Homo sapiens: one gene and its partner. The protein of the gene in region 2 interacts with the protein of the main gene of each other region in a biochemical or structural test. Each region holds a gene or a part of one and is shown on either strand. Other genes may lie near its edges.

Region 1 (7,035 bases), on a different chromosome or scaffold from region 2:
TGAAGTGATTGGTCTTTCATAAAATATAAATTTATGAACAGTTGAAATATCAGATTTACATTAAATGTTCTAGATAACAGCAGAGCAGTAGAAATTATTACCAACTGTTGATGAATAAATAATTTAGATAAAAGACAAAGTAGCTAGTTGGGTCTATTTTTTTTTTCAATTATATAAAGATGTAAAACTTGAGGAAGATGCTTAGTTATGTTAGTCAGTTATTGCTAGGAAGACACCGTGGCTGATCACCACAGGACAAGAATTACAAATTGTGCTAACCTTCACATGCAAGTCGCATGATCAAGTCACCATCTGTGGGGAGAGGAAGTATATCCTGCCCCCAATAACAAGAGGAAGAGAGGAGAAAGGAGTCTTGAACATTAATTCAGCTAGTCAGAATTGCTAATGGAAGGTTCTCTGAAATGAATAAAAAAAAGAGGGGAGGTTCAAAGATTAAGACTTTACTTTAAACATTGCTGAAATATAATTTTAGAAAAAGCACACCACACATACTATTCAGTTTCATGACTTAGTGAATTGTCAAGCCTGGAGAAAAGACCCCAATAGAACTGTTAAATGGTTTGATTTTGACTCTGGGAAATGAAGCATGATAAAGAAGTTATTAGCACATAAAAACTAGGTACAGGTTTCTGGTGATGAATTATATGAGTCATATCTACTTTCTGCCATTGAGAATTATAGAACCTTCACTAATAGTTCACATAGTTTTTTAGATAAATGGAGTAATGCAATGTTTTTTTAATACTTGCAGATTCTATATGTATGTAGGGAATCAAGAGCATCTTTTGAGTAGGGATTCTGGATCCCAGGCCTCTATGAGAATCTGATTAAAGCTATCTACCTCTCTCCATGTAGTCTGGAGTTCATTGGAGGTCACAAAACCTTGGTATAGACAGGAAATTATCTCCACATAGATAGAGATGTTTATTTATTAGCTTAGTTTTAGTGTTGTCCATAGTTTTACTCTCTTGCCATTTCATAAAGTTTACTTTATAAATGCCATTTTTATTGAATACTCAAGAGTATTGAGTTATTTTGTAATGTTCCCGACTAAGCTACCATCATCACTTGCCTGGACTGCTTCAGCTGTCTTTCTAGTCTCTCCACATCTCTAGCCCTCTTCAGTTTTCTCCTATCGTCCAGTCACAGCAGTCTTTGAAAACTCATTGGATGGTGCTATTCCTTACTTACCTGCATAAACCCTTTAATGGTTTCTCTTATTTTTAGGATAAAAGCAAAAATGCATTCCTTCTGCCTGGCCTTGCCTTCTTTCTAGCTTCTTCTACTATTGCTGCTTGTTTCCTTCCAGTCCCACAAACTGGCCTTGTTCTCTCCAGCCTCAGTGCTTTTATGTATGATACTCTCTAGACTGATTGTATCTCTTCCTTAGGTCTCTTTATATATTCCCTACTTATCTTTTGTATCTCAAGCTTAAGTGTAAGTTGATCACAGAAAACATTGAGGATCTACCAAATGAGGTCAGTTCCTCCTGCCCAACTCCTAGTGCTGTCTGTGTCTTTCACTCCTAGCACTCATCACAGTTGCAGTATTACATTTTTACAACTTTAAACATTTGTAATTATTTTATTAATGTCAGTTTCTTTCAATGGTCTGTAAAATAGTGTCTTTATTCACCTTTGTGAATGTTCATATTCTCAATAATTCACGGATTGTTAACTGCCTAATAAATGAGATAACAAAAAATACTATAGGGTGGAGAAATTACTTCAAGTAGATGGGGGAAAGCTTCACTGAGAGGTTTGGAATTAATCTAAGGTATTGTATATAGATAGATAAAAAGCACTTGAACAGCGTTCCAGGCAGGAATGGAAATAGAATTTTAAAAAGGAATTAGAAATTGTTTGGATGGAGAAAGATGCAGATTTTTGCATGAGCTACTTGTTCACTTACAAGGATGGTGTACTTTAAGCCTAGAAAGATGGGATGGAACATATTTAATGAAACAGAATAGTTGTTGTCTTTATTGGTATTGTTGCTATCGTTATTGTGGTTTTGCAGTATTTAGTTTCTCTAATCGAAAAAATAAAATTGGCACTGGCAAATCATAGTTTTTTTGGTACAATTACAGTTAAATGTAGACATTTCCAAAGACCAGTATCCCCAAACCTTGTTCTTTCAAGCAATTTTATTATTTCTGTAATTCAGCATTTTCCATGGTTTGGAAAACACTGGTATAGAAGCATCCAGTGGGTGAAGCTACCTTGTAATTACAGCAGTGACTAGAGTCCCTTAGATGCTAAGCCACACATGTACGTAAGTTTCCTTTGCAGTGAATAACCTTCACCTTAAGTGATTATTAGCTTGCTTTAACAAATTCGAAAGAAGCTATTATGTAGTATGTTTTTGTTAAGAATATTTTAATATCTAATGACTTGCATCAGGTAAGTCATAATTTACCTGATATGGCTTAATTTTTGTAATATAAACATTCCCTAATAATAACAAAAATTGAGCAATATTAAAGATATTGAATTTAGAGTATTACTTTAAATTAAGCAATATTAAAATATTAATATCAAAAATTATGAAAATTGGCCAACATTAAAATATTGAATTTAATATACTATTTTAGTAAATTGGTCTTATATCCTTTTAATTATTACAAAATACTTGTAGTTCCCAGATTATTATTTTGTATCAAAATTAAAGCCTTAAAAAAATCTTCATTATTTTCAAGAATATTGAAATTGTTTCCAGCAGTGTAAAAAATCTAAGACATGTTTTTTAATCCTGTGTAATCTTACCTTTGGAAGTTTGTATTTATATAGGGTGAAATCATTTATATAAGGTGAAATGGCTCCAGGTATTTTTTATGCAAACAGGTATTTTTATTTTATTAAAATGAAGTACTTTAGTGTCACATCAGACTTTTGTGGCATAAAGCTATGGTTGACAATAAGCTGAGTTTTCTGACTTCAGTAAAACATGACCTTACATTTCCCATTATACGATGGAACAGACATACATGGCTTGCCTGATGTCTGCTTTGTACTGGGACTAGATTAAAATGCTGTACATTTGTTCGCATAGAAATCTTGCCAAGGTAATGGATAGATCATTTATAGCTATCACCTGCTGGGAATAATCACATAATAGTAAACTTGCAGTGTAAATTTTGATGCCTTCTTTTTATAATGTAGTCTATTCTGTCTGCTGGATACATGATTTTTTATTAAAGATTGACAATTGGTTGTTTACAAGTCTAGATAGTCTCCAGACAGTTTGAAAAATGTATTCCACTGCTTTCCAAGTTGAGGCTTGATTTAAAAGTTTTGATCCATCTGACCCATGTTTTATTAAGGAACATGTTTCATTCCAGCCTTCCTACTGTAGCTTTCTTAGTATCATTGGGAAGTTTTCATGAGACTGTGGAATGTTTCCTCTGCTTAGGGGATTTCCTGGACCTTTCCAAGTGCGTTCCAGTCTAAAAGTCTAGAACTTGGATTAACCTGAGGGCATTTATAGCAAACTCTAGCTCCAGATATACTCACCTGGTTAATTCTGCCAAGCTCTTTAAGAAGGTAGTATCACTACTAGAAAGCGCATGGGAGACCTTGGGGCTGACCTCGGTTTGAAATTATTCAACCATTTACTATGAGACTGACTTTGGTGGTACTTTGATTTTTTTCTTCTGTAAAACAGGAATAATATTTCATAGACTTTTGAGAATCAAATACTAATGCATGTAAGTTAATACAGTATCTGATAGCAAGTGTTCTATATAAAGTAGCCAATTGCTTTACTGAGTATCTGTTTTAATGTGTATTACATAAGATATTGTGTTCTCTTGTAGAAGGTAAATGGTTTTTCATCCTATTTGATAGTTTGTTTTTTTTTTTCAAAAGCATGTATTTTCTAAATAGTACTGAAATTTGGAGTAAAATCACTTGGCTTGACATATTGCCTCATCTTTAATGGTTATTCCAGGCTATGCATTTCTTCTCTTTCAAGAAGAGAGCTCAGTTCAGGCACTCATTGATGCTTGTATTGAAGAAGATGGAAAACTCTATCTGTGTGTTTCTAGCCCTACTATCAAGGACAAACCAGTAAGTAAATACCACATGAACTTCAGGCTACAAATGCAAATTTTTCAAAAATTGTTTTGAAATGATTGTTAATTAATAAAAGAACAATTAAACTACCATGTTGAGTTTTAGTTTTTGAAACATCCAGATAATTTATAGCAGGAGTCCCCAACCCCTGGGCAGTGGACCAGTACTGGTGGTCCATGATCTTTTAGGAACCAGGCCACACAGCAGGAGATGAGTGGCAGGCAAGCCAGCATTACTGCCTGAGCTCTGCCTCCTGTCAGATCAGAGATGGCACTCTATTCTCATAGGAATGCGAACCCTATTGTGAACTGCACGTGCGAGTGATCTAGGTTGCATGTTCTTTATGAGAATCTAATGCCTGATGATCTGAGGTGGAACACTTTGATCTCGAAACCATCCTCCACCACCTCCATCCTTAGAAAAACTGTCTTCCTCAAAATTGGTCCCTGGTGCCAAAAAGGTCAGAGACTGCGGATTTATAGTATCTAGATCAACAAAAGTTATAAAAATAATTTGTTTCCAGATCCCACTATACAAATTTTTAAGCAATAAAAGAATCACTATTAACTGGCAAAAACAAACAAACAGAAAATTCTCATAAGACATCAAGGGAGTAAGACCCAATGTAATTTTCTTCATAGGTTCAAATACGTCCTTGGAATTTAAGTGATAGTGATTTTGTAATGGATGGTTCTCAGCCTTTGGATCCCCGAAAAACAATTTTTGTTGGAGGTGTTCCTAGGCCATTAAGGGCTGGTAAGTAGAATGTTAACAATTTTGTTTAAAAAAATCATTTAAATATGTCCTAGTCAATTTAATAAACGTTTGGAAGCTATTGTGTACATGACACTATTGGACAGAGCAGGAGCAGATTCTGCATGCACCAATTGCTGCTAACTACAGAATTTTGAAACAAATTCTGAGGCCCCCTCTTGAAACTCTCCAACTGGAGAATTGGGTACTTATCTATCAATATTAGTGCAGTAGCTAACTCAAAGCAAATCTATAAGAATCCACCTAAATACTTCCGATTTCCTAAGTGTACCTCTCTGAGATAAGAGAATTTGGGGTCTGTTTATTTTGTGTAGATCGATTCTGATATCTGAAAAAGAAATATGGGATTTTTTTCTCTTTTATCTATATTTTAATCATTAAAGTAGCACTTTAGATAAGTGAATGATGATAAACTTCTGTTTATCAATAACTAGGAACCAAAAACCTACCAAAATATGTCACAGAGGAATATAATTGTAGATGTATATGCCCACTTTGCACTTGTTAGATGGTACTGTGCACCATGTGTAGAGTGTTAGTGATTTCCATCACTGAGAACATCGTCTCCCCAGTCATAGAGATATATGTTAAAGAACTATTCATACATGGAAATACTTATAGAATATGATGACTTCTACAAAGAAGTACTATAGGGAACAGAAGAGCATGTAGCAAGGAAATATGATATCTGATATCTTGAAGGTATTTGAAGTCTGATATCTTGAAGGTATTTGTAGTTGAGCTGACATATAAAGACTGGGCAAAAGGAGTAGGATCAGGGTGGTAGCAGGGTTCTGAGGAATGTGTTTCACAGAAAGGGAACAGCTTATTTAAAGGTCTTGAGTGGAGGGAAACAGGGTGCTTTGAAGGAACTGAAAGAAGCCCAAAGTGCCTGACTTGGGATACAAGGAGTGAGGGAAGGGGTCAAATCATACAAGTCTAATAGACTAACTCGGTATTTATTCTCAGAGCAAGGGTAAACCATTGAAGAGTTTTTAAGCAAAAGAGAGACTTCATTATCTTTGCAGTTTTCAAAGTTCACTTTAGCTAATGATTCAGAGAGAGGGGGGCCAGGGTGAGAGTAAATGCGGGCAGACCAGTTTAACATCCTATTATTACAATCCAGGAGATAGACAATGGTGGCTTGGATTAGTGGTAGCAGTGGAGAAAGCCAACTGAACAGAGGTGACAGATGTTTATGAGGTAGACACAAAGACTGAATCTCATCTTTCAGTCATAAGCCACTGGGTGGATAGTGATGCCTTTTACTGAGATGGAAGGAAAACTGGAGAAGGAGCAGATAGGGAGGGAAGATTGTGGTCTTGGTTTTGAACACAAGTTTATGGCACCATTCAGAGCTCCCAAATAGAAATTTCAATTAAACCATGGTATATGGTATATTTTTTTATGTATTTTTATGGTGGTATCTGGTGTATTTTTTAAGAGAATCACTCTTTATACTGTTTTAAAAAGCTGGGAAGGCAAGGGCCAAAAGCAAAGAGAGATAAGGTTATTGCCATGAACCAGATGAAAAATGATGTTAGCATGAATCAGGATGTTAGTGATGGAGGTGAGGCAATTGGACTCTAGATATGTTTTAAAATCAAGTTTACAGGATTGCATGTGCAGTATGGAGCAAGGGAAGAATACAGAAAGAATGAAGCCAAAGATCTTGACAACTTCATCTTTTCTGTTGCTTTCTAACTGGGTCAGCAGAAACTCATTGGAGCAGGTTTAATGGGATAAGGGAAGATTATGAGTTCCATTTTTAATATACCGAGTGTGGCCAGTGCCTGTTAAATATCGAGTTGTCCAGTAGACAGTTGCATGTACAAGTCTGGCATCCATGGGAGAGGTCCACACTAGAGATAAAAATGTAGGAGCTTAAAAACATATAGATGGTGTTTAAAGCTATGATACAGGATGAAGGTACCAAAGCCAGGAGTGTAGATAGTGTTGCAAGGATTGAAAGTTAGGGTACTCTGACATTGAAAAGTTAAGGCGTTTAGGATGAACTATCAAGGAAGACTCAGAAGAAATGTATCAGTGAGGTAGGAGCAGAATTAGTGGGATAATATATTCTAGAAGCCAGATGGAGAAAATATTTGAATGAGAAGGAAGGGATTAATTGTGTTCAATGCTACTTACAGATAGATTGACCATTGGA
Region 2 (4,216 bases):
CTAGAGTGCACAGGCTGGAGTGCAGTGGCACGATCTCTGCTCACTGCAAGCTCCGCCTCCCGGGTTCACACCATTCTCCTGCCTCAGCCTCCAGAGTAGCTGGGACTACAAGCGCCCGCCACCACGCCCGGCTAATTTTTTGTATTTTTAGTAGAGACGGGGTTTCACCGTATTAGCGAGGTTGGTCTCGATCTCCTGACCTCGTGATCCGCCCGCCTTGGCCTCCCAAAGTGCTGGGATTACAAGCGTGAGCCACCGCGCCCAGCCTAATTTTTGTATTTTTAGTAGAGATGGGTTTTCACCATGTTGGCCAGGCTGGTCTCAAACTCTTGACCTCAGGTGATCCACCTACGTTGGCCTCCCAAAGTGCTGGGATGACAGGCGTGAGCTACCGTGCCCGGTCACTGAGTTCTTATTGGGCAATAATGATTGGCTTAACCAAAGGCCTGGCAGCCTTTGTACCAAACTGCTAACACTGTTTACCTCTAGGGAGGGAGACTATGGAAAATGAGGAGGATACTTTCATTTTTATTTTATATCGTGAGGTATTGTTTGGATTGTTACAATGAACTTGCATTTCTTTTGTAATGAAGAAAATAATACAGAGGAAATAACAACAACTAAACCTTTGGCCTGGATTATCATCGGCTGGAAATTCATGTTGGATGCAAGTTTTTATTGATAACAAGTTATTTTTTGGTTTATATGCAAAAAATGTTCATTGAATGCCTCCTATTTGGCTGGCACTGCCTAGGCACTTTCACAGGTATTTCATCCTAATCCTCACAACAGCCCTATGAGGTAATCATTGGTCCCAGTTTACAGAAGCCTTGGGTGGGAGATTATTGCTTGATATACTTCTATTTGCCACACATTTTTGTTGGCAAGACGTTCGTATCGGCTGGTGATTCACTGGTCAAGAGCTCTCATTGGCCAGGAGTTCCTATTTGTTGCTGTAAGATTCAAATAATCAAAATACTAGAATTTTTCCCCCACAAGAATGATGGGACCAATGGCATAAGAGTAAAGGAAGGAGAGTCAGTGGGTCTCTCCCTTTGAAGCACCATTTGAGTTTGCATTGGTCAGCCCCACACAGGTGGGCGGGATGAGGTGGTGGAGGAGGAGACGCGGTGGTTATAAGTCTTCTCGCTTCAGTAGGATGAGCTTCCTCACGAGCGCTGTGATCTGGGGTCTGACCTCCTCCACTGACACAGTTGGGTCCCAAGCCCCTACCACCTTTCCATCTGGGGCTACTAGGTACTTCCAGAAGTTCCAGGTGGGCTCCTTCCCAGAAGTCTCTAGAGAAAAAGGAAGGAGAGCAAAGCGTGCTACCCTGCGTACCCTCTCCTGGGACTTCACTCTCAGTGTCCATCTTTCCCTGGTGGCAGCTAATCCTGATGCCCAGTCCACACCCCAGACCACTCCAACCAGAATCTCTGAGGGTGAGGCTCAGGCATCAGCATTTTTCAAAAGCCCCCTGGGAGATTCCAAAGTGGGGCCGAGGTTGAGAACGACTGCTGTAGGATTCTGTGACGTGCTTGATAAAGTGGTATCAAATCCTCCTTTATTAATGACTTCGAACTACTGAATAGTCTACACCCTATTCTCTAGTTCAGTTTTAATGGTTTCCAAATGTTAGTCCATGGACTGGTTTCATCAGAATCACTGGGGGTCAGGGGAGTGCTTAAAATAAAGATTCTTGGGCCCTGCTTCAGTAGGTCTCAGCCTTGTGCATTTTTAAGAGCTCCCCAGGTGCTTCTAAAAGCAAGGCCGGGTTTGATCTATAACTGTGAGAACTGGGAAGGAACTAATAAAAGAACACAGAGAAAAAAATCAACATTAGGACTGAGCCACAGAGCAAAACACAAACCTGCCGCAGTAAGGGACCTTTTGTTTGCTGCACTCTTGCTTCTCATTTACTCCTCCAGGTGAATGGGTTGCAGGGTGGGGTGGTGGCAAGGGATACAAAGGCCACCAGAAGCACGGAATCAGAAAAGGCAAAAATGGGGCCTCCAGAGGAGAAGGCCTGAGGGAAGAAATGGTCAGAATGGCAAGCTTAGCCCATGAGCCCATTCTGTGGCTCTGAGGCTTCTGCAGCTGGAGAAGGGATCTTGTTCTCAAATACTAAGATCTGGTATTTTAGCTTAGAAGGTCTCCCTCCATGGCCTACAGACTCCGCCACTGACTCAGGGTGAAGATGCCTGTCTACTATCTTGGTCAGCTTTCTCCAAGCAGGTGGCCTCCCCTGTCTATGCCTTGGTTTCTCCATCATATGTCCATAAACTCATCTAGTTCACACTGACTTAAATGTCTCCTTCTAGGAGCCCCTGAATGTGAAAACAGGATCCCAGAAAAGTCCAAAAGAGTGACTTCTGAGGGACAAGTGAGAGGCAGCAGGTATGGAGATATTCTTAGGCAGGAATACCCCTCAGCTTCTACCTGCCTCCACTCTCCTCAAAGATTAGTGCTGGAACAAAGCATCAGTCCACCTGAGATGATCAGGAAGGGGAAGGGGCCCCAGGTCACCCAACCAGCCAGTGGCTTCTGCTGCCCAGGGAGCCATGGCCTCAGCCAGCTAAGGGAGGTGTGAGGGGATGAAGAGACCAGGACTTACGGGCCAGGTACTTGAAGGCAGGATGGGCACCAGTACCGGTGACTGCAATCTTGCTAAACATGGGGAATGAGACACTGTAGGTGCGGCGGGCAAAGCTCTCAATCTCCTTGTTGCTGTCAGGCTCCTGTTGGCCAAACTGGTTGCAGGGGAAGGCGAGCACGTTAAAGTGGTGGGGGCCCAGGTCTCGCTGCAGCTGCTGCAGGGCTCGGTAGTGCTGGTCTGTGAAGCCGCACTCGCTGGCCACATTCACCACCAGGGACACCTGTATGACAGAAACAAAACAAAACAAAGCCCAGACAAGCCAGTGAAGAGGCATGAACCTGTACATGCCCTGACACATCCACATATGTGACTCCCTCAACAGTTAATACTGCCTCACACATACAAGAACACTGTGTACACATATGTAAATGTGTGTCCAGTGCTCTCACACATACACAAACACATGCACACAGACAGGCACATATGAAATCAAACATTCAGGAGCTTACAGATGTGTGCACACATACATGAACATCTGTGAACATAAGTATACAACATACATAAATAGGTATGCACATGCACCACGATACAAACATGTTAGCAAACACCACACATGCCCACACACACAGCACATCCACAGACTGGGGCACACATACTGGTGAGCACATACTGAGAACTGATAAGAGGGGGTACAAAGGGAGACCTGGGCTCAATTTTTGGCTCAGTCAGCTAGCACTCGCCACTCTGCACTGTGTCAGTCTCCCTTCTAGAATGTGAACCTACTGAGGGCAGGAGCTATGTCCACTTCATCTCTGGGCCTGGCATATGAAAAAGTCTCAGTAAGTTTCAGATGAATGAGTAAGTGTGCACACAAACACAAACGCCTGCATGGGAACATAGACACAGGTTTTCTTGAGAAAAGAACCCTCATAACTCCAGGGCAATCACCTTTTTGTCCCCCTCCTCTCCAGAGAACTAACACCACTTTTGTTGTTGTTGCTGCTGGAGCAATGGCATAATCATAACAGGACATCCCCCCAACCGTTTGCAGTCTCAAACTTCTGAGCTGAAGTGATCCTCCCACCTCAGCCTCTCAAATAGCTAGGACTACAGGCACGTGCCATCACACCTGGCTAATTTTTTAATTTTTACTTTTGGTAGAGACAGTTCTCGCCATGTTGTCCAGGCTGGACTCAAAAACTCTTAGCCTCAGGCAATCCTACCAGCTAAGCCTCTCAAAGTGCTAGGATTACAGTCATGAACCACCATGCCCAGCCTACCACTTTCTTTTATCATTAGACTAATCCTTAAATTTATTAAAGCCTTTAGGCAATAAATACAAAGCTGGCTAATGGAACTTGATTATAAGACTTTGATTAGAATTTTGGCTCAAATGCTATGTTTTTAGCTTCTAGGTATATATTATTAATGGATTTAAAACCCTAGCCGGTGCCTAGGCAGCCTAGCCCTATCCTCCATAATTGACATTTGGGTCAGATAATTCTTTGTTGTCGGGGGGATGTCCTGTTTATTTATTATCAGATGTTTGGCAGCATCCCTGGCCTCTACCCACTAGATGCCCAGTCTTGACAATCAACAATGTCTCCAGACATTGCCAAT

Evidence for each region. The genes of interacting proteins can lie anywhere in the genome.
Region 1: the proteins of GPX7 (region 2) and CPEB2 form a complex in vitro, tested with the Homo sapiens proteins (one study listed by BioGRID).

Annotation. Positions count from the first base shown.
Region 1 is NC_000004.12:15,054,452-15,061,486, forward strand, and holds part of CPEB2 (cytoplasmic polyadenylation element-binding protein 2), read left to right. Parts: intron 1-3,969; coding exon 3,970-4,088; intron 4,089-4,735; coding exon 4,736-4,850; intron 4,851-7,035. UniProt on the Homo sapiens protein: May play a role in translational regulation of stored mRNAs in transcriptionally inactive haploid spermatids. Binds to poly(U) RNA oligomers. Required for cell cycle progression, specifically for the transition from metaphase to anaphase.
Region 2 is NC_000001.11:52,605,344-52,609,559, reverse strand, and holds the end of GPX7 (glutathione peroxidase 7 precursor), read right to left. Parts: intron 2,877-4,216; coding exon 2,615-2,876; intron 1,299-2,614; coding exon 1,135-1,298; 3' UTR 509-1,134; downstream 1-508. UniProt on the Homo sapiens protein: It protects esophageal epithelia from hydrogen peroxide-induced oxidative stress. It suppresses acidic bile acid-induced reactive oxygen species (ROS) and protects against oxidative DNA damage and double-strand breaks.